Linked DNA regions of Homo sapiens: region 2 is linked to region 1. Evidence: fine-mapped expression QTL. A gene starts in region 1. The other region holds a variant in brackets. All regions are shown on one strand. Distances are between the middles of the regions.

Region 1 (8,329 bases):
CCCAAATTGCTAGGATTACAGGTGTGAGCCATTGCACCTAGCCCATTGGACACATATTTCTACAAATGTTTGCTGAACATCTAAAAATAAGAAGCAAATAAATAGGCTGGACACGGTGGCTCACGCCTGTAATCCCAGCACTTTGGGAGGCCACGGCAGGCAGATCACCTGAGGTCAGGGCTTTGAGACCAGCCTGACCAACATGGTGAAACCCCATCTCTACTAAAAATACAAAAATTAGCTGGGCATGGTGGTGGGCACCTGTAATTCCAGCTACTTGGGAGCCTAAGGCAAGAGAATCCATTGAAACTGAGGGGAGGTGGAGGTTGCAGTGAGCCGAGATCGCGCCACTGCACTCCAGCCTGGGTGACAGAGTGAGACTCCGTCTCCAAAATAAATAAAATAAAAATAAGTAAATAAAAGGAAACCATAGGTCCTGCCACCAAAGCGGCTCCTAATGGAGTGGGAAAGTCATATGCCTCTAGGGAAAATCTTCTAATAGAAATGTCTTAGCACACACATTTCTGTGGTACATAACCTGGTTGTGATTGTAGAACCCTGATACATCCCAAAGCCTCAGGGGGCGTTTCATGTGTGATCAGAACAGGTCTGGTCAGGTGTCACAGACTTTGCCCATTTTTAGCCTCTCCCTCTGCTCTGAACTGCTCCACCAGGAACCCCCAGGGGCAACGAGACTCTGGGGTGAACAGCTGCTGCTGATTTGCCCAAGCCTGGGAGCTGTTGAATCTGCCCAGTGGGGGCAGGGCGGGGCAGCCGCTCTCCCCTTGTATTTCGCTTTGTCATGGGTGGGGAGGTAGGGAAGGAGGTTAGTTTGTATCCCAGTTTTTTATATGGTTTTTAGTAAAATATCCTTTTCTGTTTTTACTAAAAGTACCCTTCCCTCTTCCTTCCACTCCCATAGGTCTCAGATTCTAGTCCAGTGTGGGACTGGTTAGGAGGTAAATGCAGTGAGACATGGAATACTAAATTGCCCCTCCCACAGGCAGATTGACTGGGGGACAGGGGTCCACAGCTCTGTCGGCAACATGAGTTCAGACGTGTTCGAAGTGGGTGCAACTTAAGTTTAAGATGGGTCCTCACCTCCTTGTTCATAGAGCTACAAGAGTGAAGAAGAGGAAAGGATTAATTCATCCTGCAGAATTGAGAAAGAGCTTACAAAAGAAATGTCACTTGGGCCAGGCGTGGTGGCTCATGTCTGTAATCCCAGTACTTTGAGAGGCCAAGGTGGGAAGATCACTTGAGGCCAGGAGTTCGAGACCAGCCCTGGGTAACCCTGCCCCTACAAAAAAAAATAGCTGGGCATGGTGGCACATGACTGTAGTCCCAGCTACTTGGGAGGCTGAGGCAGGAAGATTGCTTGATCCCAGGAGTTCGAGACTGCAGTGAGCTGTGATGGCACCACCGCACTCCAGCCTGGGAAACAGAGTGAGACCTTGTCTTAAACAGAACAAAAGAATTGTCACTTGATCTGGGTTTTAAAGAGGGCTGTCAGATGGGGAAGGGAATTTCAGACAGAGGGAAGAGCAAAAGCGCAAGGCCCTTAGAGTGCTTGTTAGTTCAGACAAAGCTCTTGCTTCAGGGAATTTACACTCCAATGCAGTGAGATCAGCAATAAACAAACATGTGCATCCTGTTAGGCAGTGATAAATGCCAAGAAAAAAAATCAAACAAGGTGATAGGGCGTCTGGGAGTGGCATGGGTGCTATTTTAGGTGGAGAGGCTAAGGCCGGCCTTTCTGCAAATGTGTTTTTTGAGCAGAGACCTGAATGAAGTGAGGAAGTACGCCACGCGGGTAACAAGAGAAGGCCATTTCAGGCAGAGGGAAGAGCCAGAGTGCAAAACTCTGAGAGGAGCAGGCTTGTGTGCTCAAGAAGGCCTATGTATCTGGGGAACAGTGAGAGAAGAGGGCAGTGGGAGGAGAGGGAGCCACCATAGGGCTTTGAGCAGAGGTCATGATCAGTCCATCAGTTTGGAGAAGAGGCTTCTGGAAACATGGGCAGAAACAGAAAGACCAGTTAGGAGGCTTTGCAATGATCCAGGCGAGAGAGGACAGGGTCCTGAGTGAAGGTGATACCAGCAGAGGAGCAAAGGGGTGTTGGAGGATATTGCTGGATTCTGGTTATCTTTTGAAGGTAGAGTCAACGGGATTTGTTGATAGACTAGATAACATTGGAAAGGTAGGTTGTTGCTGAATTGGGAATTGAGACAATTTCTGAACATACCACTTCCCTCTTAAAAATTTCGTGTTAAAGTCCAGACTCATTAGCAGTCATTTATTCATTTGCTTATTCATTCAACACATACTGATTGAATGCCTAGTATGGACCAGGCATTGTGCTAGGTGTTGCAGGTAGACACAAAATTTAAAAGTAGGGCATACTGGCCGGGCGCGGTGGCTCACGCCTGTAATCCCAGCACTTTGGGAGTCCGAGGCGGGCGGATCACGAGGTCAGGAGATCGAGACCATCCTGCCTAACACTGTGAAACCCCGTCTCTACTAAAAATACAAAAAAATTAGCTGGGCGTGGTGGCGGGCGCCTGTAGTCCCAGCTACTCGGGAGGCTGAGGCAGAAGAATGGAGTGAACCCGGGAGGCGGAGCTTTCAGTGAGCTGAGCTCGCGCCACTGCACTCCAGCCAGGGTGACAGAGGGAGACTCTCTCTCTCTCAAAAAAAAAAAAAAAAAAAAGGGCATACTTTCTGCCCTTACAGATCTTCAGTCAGATGGGTGACACAGACAAGTACTTAGGTTATTACAACCCATGTGACAATTGCTACCATGGGGAAATACAGGGGGAAATAGGGGCATATAGGAAAGGTATCTAATTGGAATTGGCAAGGCTCCACTCGTACCTTACCCCGAGGTCAGCTCAGTTTTGAAGTTCACTCTAGCAGTGCTGACCATTGCGGGGCTGTGAGACAGTACAGTCTGAGCTCGGTCATCAGCGGGTGGCCAGCTTTGTCTCTGCCGCTCCGCGGCCCGGGCTTACTCGAAGGTCCCCGGGGAATAGCCTCACCTTTGCCCCACTTCCCAGTCTAGCCCCTAACTTCCCGCCGTCTATTGGCTGCGCAGCCGCCCAATGGGCAGGCGGAAACCGCGGGCTCGTGCTCCCGGCCTAGGGCGTCTTATCTCGTTCGCGCGTCTCGCGAGCATTAGGTGACTGGCTGAGGCGGCGCCAGTTGGCCGGGCACGGGGCTGCTGTAAGGCCGAGGTTGCGGCGGAAGCGGAGACCATGTTCCGAGCGGCGGCTCCGGGGCAGCTCCGGCGGGCGGTGAGTCCGGACTGGGAAGGCGAACCCAGGGACGGCCCCCCGTCAACCCGCCGTCCCTATGGGGTCTTGCAAAGATCACTGGCCCCCTCAGATTCGACCAGCCCTCGCGCCCGCAGGCCGGTCCCCGCCTGGGACTTGGGTCCAAAGTTCTGGGGCCTACCCTGGACTCCCTGCGGAACGCCAGTTCGGGGCAGAAGTCAGAGGTTTGGGGTCAGGGTGACCCCGAATGATGTGAATTTGCGCGTCTGCTGCCCCTTCTTCTGGCCCACTCTCTGCCCTGCCGTTTCCCACCTTTGTCGGTCACTCTGGGCACTTTCGGGCCGCCAGGTCCTCCACACTTGCTCCACACCCGAGGGAGCAAAATGTCACCGGGGAATGCCCTGTTGGGGAAAGTTTCAAACCTAGATTCCTCCCGGAGGCCGGCATTTCTGGAAGAATTAAACACTTTGGGCGCATCGTGGCTACTCCGACCCACTCACTGTCAAGGGCGGGGGTGGGGTGGGGTGGGAGGCTGCGTGGCCAGTTATGGAAGCTGGTTCTGCTTTCTGGTTTATGGAGCAGGGCTGAATTTAGGTGATTGTATTTGTAAAACCTGCGATCCGATTTGACAGCTTTAGCCAGTTTTGAAAGGCAGACGTCTTTTTATATGCTTCAGGCTGACCTGCTTTTAACCAGCAGATTGTAGATTAGGTTAACTGGTGACAGTGGTACATTTTCAGTGTTTCATTAGTGACAAACCACATTTCTCTCTTCTGTTGTGAGAAGGACTGATAGGAAACATATTTTCCTTCTCATGCTGTGGGAAAGGAGTATTTGGAGACTGACCAGTCACAAGTCAAGTAACAATAATTTATATTGTGGATTGTGTAGTTTTCCTAGTTTACATTTAGGTGAAATGAGAAACAAGATTGGTAAACTTGGGTCAGAAACTTACCTGATGGTTTGTACCTTTTCTCCTTTTTTTTTTTTTTTTTTTTTTTCTGGGCATGGATATTTTCCCATCCACTCCTGGGATTTTTCTCTCTGAGGCATAGCTGGAGCTCTTTCTAGATGTCTGTAGACATTAGACTTTTGTTTGTTTGTTTGTTTGTTTGTTTAAGAGACAAGGTCTGGCTCTGTTTCCCATGCTGGAGTGGAGTGCAGTGGCACGATATGGGCTCACTGCAACCGTCGCCTCCCAGGTTCAAGCGATTCTCCCACCTCAGCTTCCCGAGAAGCTGGGATCACAGGTGCGCATCATCACGCCTGGCTAATTTTTTTTTTTTTTTTTTTTTTTTTTTTGTAGAGACGGGGTTTCCCCATGTTACCCAGGCTGGTCTCGAACTCTTGTCCTCAAGTGATCCACCTGCCTCGGCCTCCCAAAGTCCTGGAATTACAGGCCTGAGCTACCGCACCTGGCCTTAGACATCTTTTTTCTTGTGCGTATTCCTTGTTTAATAAAAAGTTCTGACCCTCCCCTCCCCTAAAGAGTTCAAACCCATGTCTTTCAGGTTAGTGTCCTGTCTTCCCCTCAGGACATGTTTTCTCCCGGTTGGGGATCTAGACATAAACAAGTGAAAATCATGAATTTGGGGAAATTCCAGGAACCTGAGCCAGAAGAATGCTGCTCTATGCAGCAGTTGGAAAACAGTTTTGTGGACAGATTACAAGTCTGGCCTAAGTGAAATTATAATTGTGGTGGGGGATGGAATTTAGGACTCAGTAATTTTGTAGAGCTAACAGAAAAAAATGGAATGATTAAGTAATTTTTACTATCCACATCGTTGGCTAATGTGTATAGACATTACTTCCAGATATTCATTGTGGTTTGCCAAAGACTTTGACCTTGACTTATTTTTAAAATTTGAAGTCAAGCTAAGTAGAATAGCTGTTTTTTTTGTTTGTTTGTTTGTTTGTTTTGAGACGGAGTCTCGCTCTGTCGCCCAGGCTGGAGTGCAGTGGCGCGATCTCAGCTCACTGCAAGCTCCGCCTCCCGGGTTCACGCCATTCTCCTGCCTCAGCCTCCTGAGTAGCTGGGACTACAGGTACCCGCCACCACGCCCCGCTAATTTTTTTGTATTTTTAGTAGAGACGGGGGTTTCACTGTGTTAGCCGGTATGGTCTCGATCTCCTGACCTCATGATCCGCCCGCCTTGGCCTCCCAAAGTGCTGGGATTACAGGCGTGAGCCACCGCGCCCAGCCTAGAATAGCTGTTTTAAAGTCATTAAGAATGTTGGAGAGATTTGGATTTCTAGCATAAAAGAAATGGTGGCAACACTTCTAAAGTGGACCCATATATTAATAGGGACATATACCTGTATTTAACTTTTTAAATTTTGAAATAGTTGCACTTATAGAAAAGTTGCAAGAATAGTACAAAGAAATCTCAAAACCCTTCCCCTGGTTTTCCCAGCATGTTAGCAGTTTGACACATTTGCTTTATCTTTCCACATATATACATAATACTATCTTTCTGAACCATTTGAAAGTATGTTGCAAATGTGCCCTTTACTCCTAAATAATTGAGTGATATTTTAAAAGAACAAAGAGGTTCACTTTCTAACTACACTGTAATTGGCAATATCTGGAAGTTTCACCATAAAATACTGTTTTCTAATCTATGGATGTTCAATTTTGCCAGTTGTCCCATTAGTACAGTTTATAGCAATTTTCCTTATTCTGGTCTAAGATACTCTAGATGTCCTGCAAGTGGTTTTCATGTCTCTTTACTCTGTTAGAAAGGTTCCTCAGCCTTCCTTTGGGTTTGATGACATTGGTGTATTTGAAGAGTACAGGCCTTCTATTTTCCAGACTGTCACTCAATTTGGGTTTGTCTGGTGTTTCCTCATGATTAGATTCAGGTCATGTATTCTTGGTGGGAATATCACAAAAGTGGTATTGTGTTCCCCGTGCATCATATTAGCAGGTACTTAATGTTGGTTTATCCCATTAGTGGTAATGCTGACTTTAGTTACTTAGCCAAAGTGTTGTTTGCCAGGTTTCTCCACTGTCAAGTTAATACTCCTCCTTTTGTAATTTTTAACTAATTTGTGAGGCGATTCATTGAGACTATGTGACTGTCCTATTTCTCATCAGACTTTTACCCAGTCTTAGCATCTGTTGATGATTTTTGCCTGAGAAATGATTACTATGATGCAAAATGGTGATTTTCTATTTCCATGATACCTTCGTACATTTTTTAGTTATTCTACTATAAGGAAGAACATTATCTTCTTGCATATTTATGGATTTATGGATACATGGATCCTTATTTAGGATAATACATTTCTACCTTATGCTGAAGTTGTCTCATGTTTGTAAAGTGGGGCCCATTCAATCTGACTCCTGTTTGTTTACATATATATGTTTGTGATATCACAAAGTCAAAATAGCTTATCTCAAGTCCCCACTCTTGAAATTAAAAAAAAAATGTTCTGTAGCTAACCATTAATGCATTTAGGAAGAGGATACATTTCCAAAACCATATTTAAAAAAATAAAGTTAGGAATTACAGTTAAAAGATTACCATAAACTGTTAACGATGTGCATATAGTTAACACTTAACACTTAAAAATGGTTAAGATGGGGCCAACCATGGTGGCTGACACCTGTAATCCCAGCACTTTGGGAGGCTGAGGCAGATGGATCACCTGAGCTCAGGAGTTCGAGACCAGCCTGCGCAACATGGCGAAACCCCATCTCTACCAAAAAAAAAATTAGCCAGGCGCCATGGTTCACACCTGTAGTCCCAGCTACTTGGGAGGCTGAGGCACGAGACTTGCTTGAACCTGGGCATTTGAGGCTGCATTGAGCCCAGGTAGCACCACTGCCCTCCGGCCTGGGCAACAGAGTGAGACGCTGTTTCAAAAAAAAAAAAAAAGGTTAAGATGGTAAATTTTATGTATTCTTTTAAACCACTTTGTTAAACTATTAGGATATAAGTTCAATGACTTGCATTTGGTATCTAAGTTCCATTTTTAGTTCTGACTGATTTGTGCCATTGAGTAAAGTCTTTCATCCTTATGTGTGTGGCAATGGTCTTTAAAGTCATCTGTTAACAAAGATAGTTTTTATATCTATAATAAAGAGCTAGAGAACACACCAAGAGGCAAATAGGTAGGCATTTGCAGTTAGTTAATATTCTTGCAGGGATATTAATCCTAATTATTGTTATTTATTAATTTGCTCTTGAAATTGATTTATTGAAGAATAAGAAGATGCAGAAAAATATTTATGTGGTGAGTGAAACAACAATTTCAAGGTCATTTGAGTACTCTTTTTACTGTGTTTATTGTCAGGTGGGAAGGAATATCTATCAGGACTGAGAAGCTATGAAACTGGTGTGAAGGAACATGACACTTTTCTGTCTAGTATTGATGAATAAGATTGAACTCTGTAATTTGCATGCAAATTTTAATTTCTATTGAAAGAAGAAAGAGAGCCAATTTTGGTGTGATTCTAAAAGAAAATTTATTGCATAAGGTGAATTCAGTAAAATTATGATGCCTGCCAATGTGTCTACTAAGAGTCTTGTCCTTTCTTAAAGTGAAGTAAATTGACTGTGTTTTTAGTATTACAGTCAATGTCATATAACATTTCTGGTCATGATTAAAAGCTGCTATATTTTATTACTAAAAGGATTAAAGGAAGTATTTAAAGTACAGAAATATACATTTTAAAAATTACAAAATGTATGTTAAAATAGGGATAGGTGACTTTATATATTATCCTTTTGGGTATGACTCAGAAAGATTTTATAGCTTATTCTTGCTGTTTTTCTTTTTTTAATTAAGAAGCAAAAAAACCGGCTGGGTGCAGTGGCTCATGTCTGTAATCCCAGCACTTTGGGAGGCTGAGGTGGGTGGATCACGAGGTCAGGAGTTTGAGATTAGCCTGACCAACATGGTGAAACCCGTCTCTACTAAAAATACAAAAATTAGCTGGGTGTGGTGGTGCGTGCCTGTAATCCCAGCTACTTAGGAGGCTGAGGCAGGAGAATTGCTTGAACCCAGGAGGCGGAGGTTGGAGTGAGCTGAGATCGCGCCACTGCACTGCAGT
Region 2 (8,329 bases), 130 kb after region 1:
TGCTAGCCCAGCCTCAAAGGCGAGTGACCTACGCAGAGCCGTTGGCATTCTCTCAGGGGTCCAGAAAACCAGGGGACAATGGGGTCCAGCGAGAGGCCTGGATGGGGAGATGGGCCCTGGCTCCCAATCAGACCACCCACCACCTCCCACGTCTGCTCCGGTTCCTCCACGTGAAAGACAGCGAAGGGGATGGAGGGGGGGCGTGACAGCTTCCTCTCCTCACATCTTCCTCCATCAGAAATGCCTACAGCTTGCAGGGTCAAGATTATCATCTTGTTTCTTCAGGAAAACAGGCCAGGGAGGCATGGCATTCCCCCAGGAAGGACTTTGATAAGTGTGGCTGTGCCGCCTGCTGTGGTGGAACCGGGGAAAGGGTAGGGAATGTTGTGAGCCCATTGGCCTTGTTTTATGGGTTGGGTGACTGTGCAGGCGACTGTTTTCTTCTTGGGCACAAAGACCACTTCTGACAGCATCTGGTGCCCCTAGTTGGTACTGTGCAACTGACTCTTGCCAATAAAACGGGGGCAGAGCAATATCACCATTTTCAGTCCTGGCCAATAAAAACCTGCTGTGCCCAATTCCCCAGCCTCACTTTCCTATCCACTGACTGGAGAAGACTCCGAGGACTTGGAGGAAGAAGGATCGGCCGGGCTTGGTGGCTCCCACCTGTAATCCCTGCACTTTGGGAGGCCGAGGTGGGTGGATCACTTGAGGTCAGGAGTTCGAGACCAGCCTGGCCAACATGGTGAAACCCCATCTCTACTAAAAATACAAAAATTAGCCAGGGGTGGTGACACATGCCTGTAATCCCAGCTACTCGGGAGGTTGAGGCAGGAGAATCGCTTGAACCCAGGAGGCAGAGGTTGCAGTGAGCCGAGATCATGTCACTGCACTCCAGCCTGGGCCACAGAGCGAGACTCCATCTCAAAAAAAAAAAAAAAAAAAAAAAAAAAAAAGCCACAAAATGGAAGCAGCCTGGAGGCCTGAGTGACTTGTGTGGAACAGAGGGTCCCTCCACCCTGCCCCATTGCAACCTGCATTGGAGTATGATGAGAGTGACAAATGTACTCCTCCTGTGTCAGGACTCAGATTTCTGGATTTGCTGGATGCAACAACTGGTGTTACTCACCCTAACTATCAGTGACTCAGGCAGATGCCTCTTTCTGGCGCAGGGAAATGGACACTGAAGCCCTGGGTTTCTTTCCTAGTCCCTCCATGAAAAACTACAGGATCTGGCCAAAGAATAGCCTCTCTGAGCCTCAGTCTTTCCATGTGAAGGGATTAATAGTACCCAGCCTGCCAACTTTCACCAGCAAAGGAAAAATGAGCTAAAACATGACAGTGCATTTGTGAATGAGCAACCATCATATAGATACATTTAGTAGTTTTTTTTGTTTTGTTTTGTTTTGTTTTTTTGTGACTGAGTCTCGCTCTGTCACCCAGGCTGGAGTGCAGTGGCATGATCTCGGCTCACTTTAAGCTCTGCCTCCCAGGTTCATGCCATTCTCCTGCCTCAGCCTCCTGAGTAGCTGGGACCACAGGCACCCGCCACCACACCGGGCTAATTTTTTATATATATTTTTTTTTAGTAGAGACGGGGTTTCACCGTGTTAGCCAGGATGGTCTCGACCTCCTGACCTCGTGATCTGCCCGCCTCGGCCTCCCAAAGTGCTAGGATTACAGGTGTGAGCCACCGCACCCGACCTCTCTCTTTTTTTTAACCCTTACTGAAAGCCTCCAGCAGGCCAGATTTAATTTGATGCATATGGCATCCACACGATGTAGGCCTTGTTACCTCCAATTTCCCCAATGAGAAGCTGAGGCTCAGGGGTTAAAGGGAAGATGACTGGTCACTGGTGGGGCTGAGGTTTGAATCTGGCTTGCTGGCTCCCCGAATAAGAGGATTCTTTCCACTCCTCCAAGCTCCCCGACAAGGGACTCACCTTTCCCAAGGTCTAAGGATGTCCTAAGGGGCTCACAGGTCCCACTGGTCTCCTTGGAGGCTGGACCTTGAGTCACCCCGGATTGAGCCTCATATCCCTCAGTATTTTGCCAATGATCTCAGGGTGAATGGTGCTGAGGAAGCAGAACGTCAGAGAAGAGAAACTAACTTCCACAGTGGGCCAGGTCAGATCATACTATTTTGTACCAAAAGCTGTTACCAGGCTTAAACATGAAAGAGCGGGTGTAACGGAGACTTCAGAATGTGTTTCGGAACTAGAGCGAGATCCCACGCATGGAGGTACATAAAACCTCAGAGGTGGTTTCGTGAGATGAGTCAGAAGAGTATATCGTTGCATTGATTTAACTGCTGCATCTAAAATGGCTTTGGTTTCTGAAGCAGCCAAGACAGAGAGAGAGACAAGGCATCCACACCGTCTCTCTGAAGGGCAGCCTCTAGCATCGTGACTTTGGACTCCATCTGTGTACCAGCGAGCCTAACTCGTCATGAAATTCTGGCCAAGATCCACCCCTCACCAAAAACAAACAAACAAACAAAAAGAATGGAAAAGAACTTCCACCTAAGGAATTGAGGAATTGCTGAATTCAGGGGTCAGAAGCCATGTGCTTCTATCACAGCAGCGGGGAGTCTGGAAGGGACTGCAGAAGGCATGGCCAGGGCTTTGGAATGGTATGACTGACCAGCAGAGAGACCTCCTCCCCTCCCGGGATCCTCTAGGCACCCCTCCCCAAGTAGGAATCTGTTAAGCATGAGGTGTGTCCACAACCAGAAGAGATCATAGGAATGAGGGAAGCAGTGAAGCCTGTTTCCCTGTCAAAGCCAGAGGGCCAGTGTGATCCAGGAGGGAAGGCACTGGAATGAGCAACAAGAGACCTGTTTTCGTCCTGGCCTCATAACTGCTGTGCCACGTTGGGCCCACCTCTCCCTTTCTCTGAGCCTCAGATGCCCCATCTGCCAAATCCTGGATTGGGCCAGCTGCCCTCCCCAGGGACCTTTCATCTGTTATATAAGGTGATTCTGGAGCACCTTGCATGTGGGCCTGTGACAAGAAATGAACTGCCATGTAGCACAGAAGGTGAAATGAATCAGATATTCATGCAAGAAACTGGCCAACAGGCTCACCTGAGAGTCTCCACAGGGTCACGGTAAGAAGCAATGTAATCTTTCTTAAAAAGTTAAGATGGGCTGGGTGCGGTGGCTCATGCCTGTAATCACAGCACTTTGGGAGGGTGAGGCGGGTGGATCACCTGAGGTCAGGAGTTTGAGACCAGCCTGGTCAACATGGTGAAACCCCGTCTCTACTAAAAATACAAAAATTAGCTGGGCATGGTGGCAGGTGCCTGTAATCCCAGCTACCCGGGAAGCTGAGGCAGGAGAATCTCTTGAACCCAGGAGGTGGAGGTTGCAGTGAGCCAAGATGGCGCCACTACACTCCAGCCTGGGTGACAGAGTGAGACTCTGTTCCAAAAAAAAAAAAAAAAAAAAAAAAGCTTAAGATGAAGAAACAGAGAGTAACTGTGCAGTGGAGACACCTGACCCACGCTGCCCCAGCCGGGTGATCCAGGCCGCATCACAGTGAGAAGTCACGTGGCCAGTGTGTCCTCTTGATGTGAGACAATAAGAATGGCACTTTCCTTCTGCAGTCTTCCTCCCAAAACCCACAACCCCAGGCTTACCCTGGGAAAAACATCAGACGAATCCCAACAGAGGGGCATCCTGTAAAACAAAAACACCCGACCAGTGCTCCCCAAAACCCTTCAGGTCATCAGAAACAAAGTCTGAGAAATTGCCACAGCCAGGAGGAGCCTAAGCCTACTGAATGCGACGTGGAGCAAACAGAGGACATAACAGATTAAATACTAAGAAAACCTGAGTACCGTATCAATGTGGGTTTGTTCATTGTAACAAATGATACTAGTGTATGATGTTAATGATGGGCAGCCAGGCACAAGGGATACAGGGAACTCTGCACCTGCTTCACTATTTTTTGGTCAATATAAAACTGTTCTAAAAAATAAAGTTTATTTTTTTAAAAAGAGCTGGGTGAAGTTGTGGCAAATAGTTGAAATAGTTGTACAAACACACCCCAGCAAGAGAGCAAGGGAGTGAAAAGCGTTTTGTTTTGTTTTGTTTTGTTTTGTTTTAGAGACAGTCTTGCTCTGTGGCCCAGGCTGGAGTGCAGTGGTGTCATTACAGCTCACTGCAGCCTCAAACTTCTGGCCTCAAGCAGTCCTCCTGCCTCAGCCTTCCAGAGCACTGGGATTACAGGTGTGAGCCATCGCGCCAGGCCAGGTGTTGTATTTAAACTGGGACCCTAACACATTTCATTGGTAAATGTCAATTTTTCAGGCAGCATATGTGAATTCAGTTTGGAAATGTCTTCATTATACTCTGAGAATTCCAGCAAGGAGACAGCAAGAGTTTGTCACAAGGAATACTAGACTGTCCTGGAACGGGGTTGGGGGCTGCCATTGAGACAGCTGAGGGGAGCCAGGTCTGTGCCTGCAGTATAAAATACCCCATGCATAATCTGATCAATGTTTTTGCTGAGTGCTAAGTGCCATGAGTAGGAAAAAGGAGGCTCAACGTGATGGGCTGGAAAAGAACAGTGTTCACAGTTAGGACACCTGGTTCTATGCCCCCCTGGACTAGCTGTGTGCCCCCAAGGCGAGCTGCCACTGCTCAGTTTTCTTATTTGTAAAATGGGTGTGTGGGGCAGGTGTGGTGGGGCTGGTGGACTTCGGGGTCCACACCCATTAGTTGCTACCCATCATGTGTCAGGCTTTAGGCTACGATCTCATCACCATCCTTCGAGGATTCTATTACTACACCCATTTTTCAGATTAGGAAAACCAAGGCCCATAGATGTCCCATTAATGCCCAAAGCCACAAGGCCAGTAAGTGTTCTAAAGAGAGACACACCTGGGTTCGAAGCCAGCTCAAAGTCTATTTAGAACCAAGTCTATTCTCAACCATTCCATGGGCTGCTGTCTCCAAGGGTCTAGCCATCTCTGACATTCCAGGGCCCACAGTCTCATTTCCTCCAGGGTATCTGTTACCCAGTCAAGTCTCAAACCAGGTCTGAAAATACAGCTGCAAGTGAGGCATCTGTCTGCTTCGCTCTGTGGAGTGGGCACCACAGACTCCAGGAGAGCTGCCCTCCTGGTCCCTCTGGCCAGGCAGCCCCCACCCTCCCCGGTGGCC[C/G]CACTGGGAGTCCAGCCTGTCTGGCCCTTTCTGCTGTCTTAACTAAGATGACAGGCTTCAGGTGTTTTTTAAATTAAAATGGTTCGTTTCTGTTCATCTCTTTTCCAGATGTCGCTACCTAGAGGGAATCTGTCTTTATTTATTGGCTCTTTCCTGTGCAGAATGCAAGGGAGTCTCCCTCCGGCTGAGACCCCCGGGAAGGAGGCCACATGTGGAGGTGACTTGAACCAGGACGGCAGGAACCTGGGGTCCCCGGGGGGCTCCGGACAGAGGTCATGGTGGAAACCCTGGGAGGTGGGGTTGCCGTTAGGATTTTCTCCTGGCCACGTGGCGCATGTGTGGCTGAGGTGAGGTGTGCGGCAGGGTCAGCGCGTTCCCTGCTGGGCTGGGAGGCTGCGAATTTATGAGGGGCGGATGCAGCCCTGTGTCCGTGTCTTTCACGTTGCCAACTGCAGTGAAGTAGAGCATTTGTTTTCCTGTTCAACAGCAGAATGAGAACTGCCTGATCGGCTTCCAGTCGCTTTCTGGATGACACCCTGCACTTTACTTTCCCCACTTCCCTGCAGCCCCCTCTGCCTAAAGCCCAGCTTCTCTCACCTTCTTCTCCAGCCTCTGTCCCCAGTCTTCCTGTCTCCACCCTGCCCTCTCCATCCAGCCTCCAACGGCAGCCAGAAGGCTCCATCAACAACTCACATCTGAGCAGATCCCCCAGTCCTGCTTTTAATCCTCCAGGCTTCCTCTGTCCCAGCAGGATAAAGCCCAAACTCTCTGGTCAGCCACAGAGCCCCTTCCCAAGCCTGTCCCCAATCCTACTGCCTCCCTCTGCTCACCCTCTAAATGGCCCCGAACCCCGGGGGCACTGCACCCACTCGCACACCCCACACTGTTCCCTCTGCCTGGCAGCCTTCTCCCCAGGGCTCTGCTCCACATCAGCTCCTCTGGAAAGCCTTCCCCATCCTGGCCTGCAGAGCCCGGGACGTGCCCATGTGATACAGGCATTGCACCAGATTTCCACTGCCTATTTATGGGCTGCCAAACCCCCTGAGTCACCCAGAGCCCCGTGAGGACGAGGGTCACACCCTGTCCTAGGCGGCATCCACATGCCCGGCACAAGCCCAGCACAGAGCAGCTCTGGACGGTGCTGGCTAACCACGCGATATGGCAAGAGAATGAATGAAGCTGATGCCAGCTCCTCAGGAAGGGAATGCTTCTCTTCCTAGTCTAGGATTCCATAGCCTGCCCTGCTCTCGGGACACCTTGGACAACGTGCCCCTGAGGGCCATGTCCCCTGATGACCCCTCTTGTCACGCATAGGCATTCTGTGCGAAACAAAAGGTCATAGTGTTCCCAAAGCAGATAAAAAGATTGGTTTCCTGACAGACATTCCGAGGGGATGATTCTGAAGACACTGTGTGCGTGTTCCTGTGGGGACATTTCCCAGGATCACTTTGTTGTGACATTCCACAGACGTGTCCCCCACCCCAAAACTGTGAGAGGCTGGGGTTGGTCGAGGAGCCAACAGGTACAGTGAATATGCATTTACCAAGACCCGCAACAGAATACACATTTACCAAGACCCACGACATACACTGAACACACATTGACCAAGACCTACAACGCGCGGAGTGCTGGCTGGGGCCGGATGTGAGTTGGACTAAGGCTTGCCTTCAGGGGGCATCTATTTCAGCGGGAAGAGCTGCCCCAGGCATAAAGGAGCACTGACCATGGCAGTGAGTGCCCAGTGCCCTGTGAATGTGGACAAGTGAGGGCTGCTGCAGGGCTGGGGGAGGAGGTGCAGAGGCTACTGGCGGGGGGAACATGCTCTGTAGAGAGGCTAGGACTTGAATTAGACAGACAGAGCTTGCAAGGGGCGGGGATTCAGGCAAGGGGCACAGCGCAACCAAAACCCAAGAGGTGGCATGGCACAGGGCTTGTCAAAATGACAGGTGACTCCACTTGGCACAGTCGGGGTGTTTATGCACCAGACACATGAGAGAGGAGGTCGATAGGACGGGCAGACACATAGCAGGCCTGTACGCCACATGAGACCTCAACCCTGAGGCCACCTTGGAGACTGCCTGGGCACCCAGCAATGGGGGAGGAATAGGGAGCCCAGGGGTGCCCATCCTCACCGCACTGCAAGCCAGAAGGGCTCAGTGCCCACATCAATATGCGGCCACGGGCATTCCTCCACTTTCACTGGCAGGACATGGGCTGGAAGACAGCCCGTGAAGAACTCGCCTGGCCCTGGGCACAGAGAGCCACAGGCTTAGCGTCTCTGGCTTGCGCAGCTGGGGGCAGTGGCCCTGTCCTCTCCCCAGAATCCATCGGGCAGAATGGGAATGACCATGCATGTCATTTGGACCATCCCCCACATTCCCACCACCTTGCCAGTCCCCTCAGTAGCATTCCCACCTTACAGCCTGGGACCGGACCCTTCCCTGCACACCGAGCTGCACTTCTACAGAGCTCTCAGCCTTGCTGCGGGATCCAGCAGCCACCCCCTCCTGAGTACCCCAATCCCCCTCCTCTGAACTCCTCTGTCCCACTCACATGGGAGCAGCCACCTCATCTTACAGAGGAAGGAACTGAGGGCAGAGGGGTGGCCCAACTTGGCCGGAGTCCGGCGGGGTGGGAGCAGCAGGGCTAGGCCTTGAATGCAGGTCTCTGGATTCCCGACAGGGTGCCCCTGGCCCAGCTGCCAGTCCCCCTTGCCTCTGCTGAGCCCATCCTTGCAGGGCCCACCACCTGCCTCTCTGAGTCTGCATCACATCTCCTGGAGGGTAGAGAGCACCGCTAGCATCTTTCTGGGGCCCTGGGCGTCCCGCGTGGCAATGGGCATACCATGGTGCCCAGCAACCCTCAGCAGACAGAATTAGCGACTGGCTTTAGAGACCGACCATGTCTCCGAGAAGACTCTGATGAACTGAGGGGGCGACTTGGCAGACTCAGGTTGGGGAGCTGAAGAGTCACCGTGCTACAGTGGAAAGAACCCTGGCCTGGGAGTCAGGGTTGAGTCCATGCCTGGCTGGGCTATACATCAGTGAACCTGGAGATGTGTCCCCTTCTCTGGGCTTCAGGTTCCCCATGAGTCCAACAAGGGGCTGGAGGAACTCCCTGACCTCTGGTGCCCCTGCAGCTCTAGCAACCCATGGCTTTAGG

Evidence for each region. PIP is the estimated chance that this variant, and not a neighbour inherited with it, causes the effect.
Region 2: its variant is fine-mapped to the expression of ETFA in nasal epithelium (TOPMed, PIP above 0.99). The same link has a PIP of 0.9 or more in tibial artery.

What each region holds. Positions count from the first base shown.
Region 1 is chr15:76,306,312-76,314,640 of GRCh38, reverse strand. ETFA (electron transfer flavoprotein subunit alpha) reads left to right here and starts at 3,172. Exons shown (of 12, transcript NM_000126.4): 1 at 3,172-3,291. The coding sequence starts at 3,253. RefSeq lists a cis regulatory region at 567-988 and enhancers at 2,550-2,599, 2,660-2,709, 2,919-3,419, 3,420-3,920.
Region 2 is chr15:76,175,731-76,184,059 of GRCh38, reverse strand. All of the region lies in intron 8 of TMEM266 (transmembrane protein 266), which reads right to left. It overlaps LOC101929439 (a long non-coding RNA gene), which reads left to right and starts at 2,574. Exons shown (of 3, transcript NR_120360.1): 1 at 2,574-3,108; 2 at 5,276-5,514; 3 at 7,590-8,329. RefSeq lists enhancers at 2,174-2,223, 2,434-2,483. The variant C/G (reference allele first, on the strand shown) is at 5,168.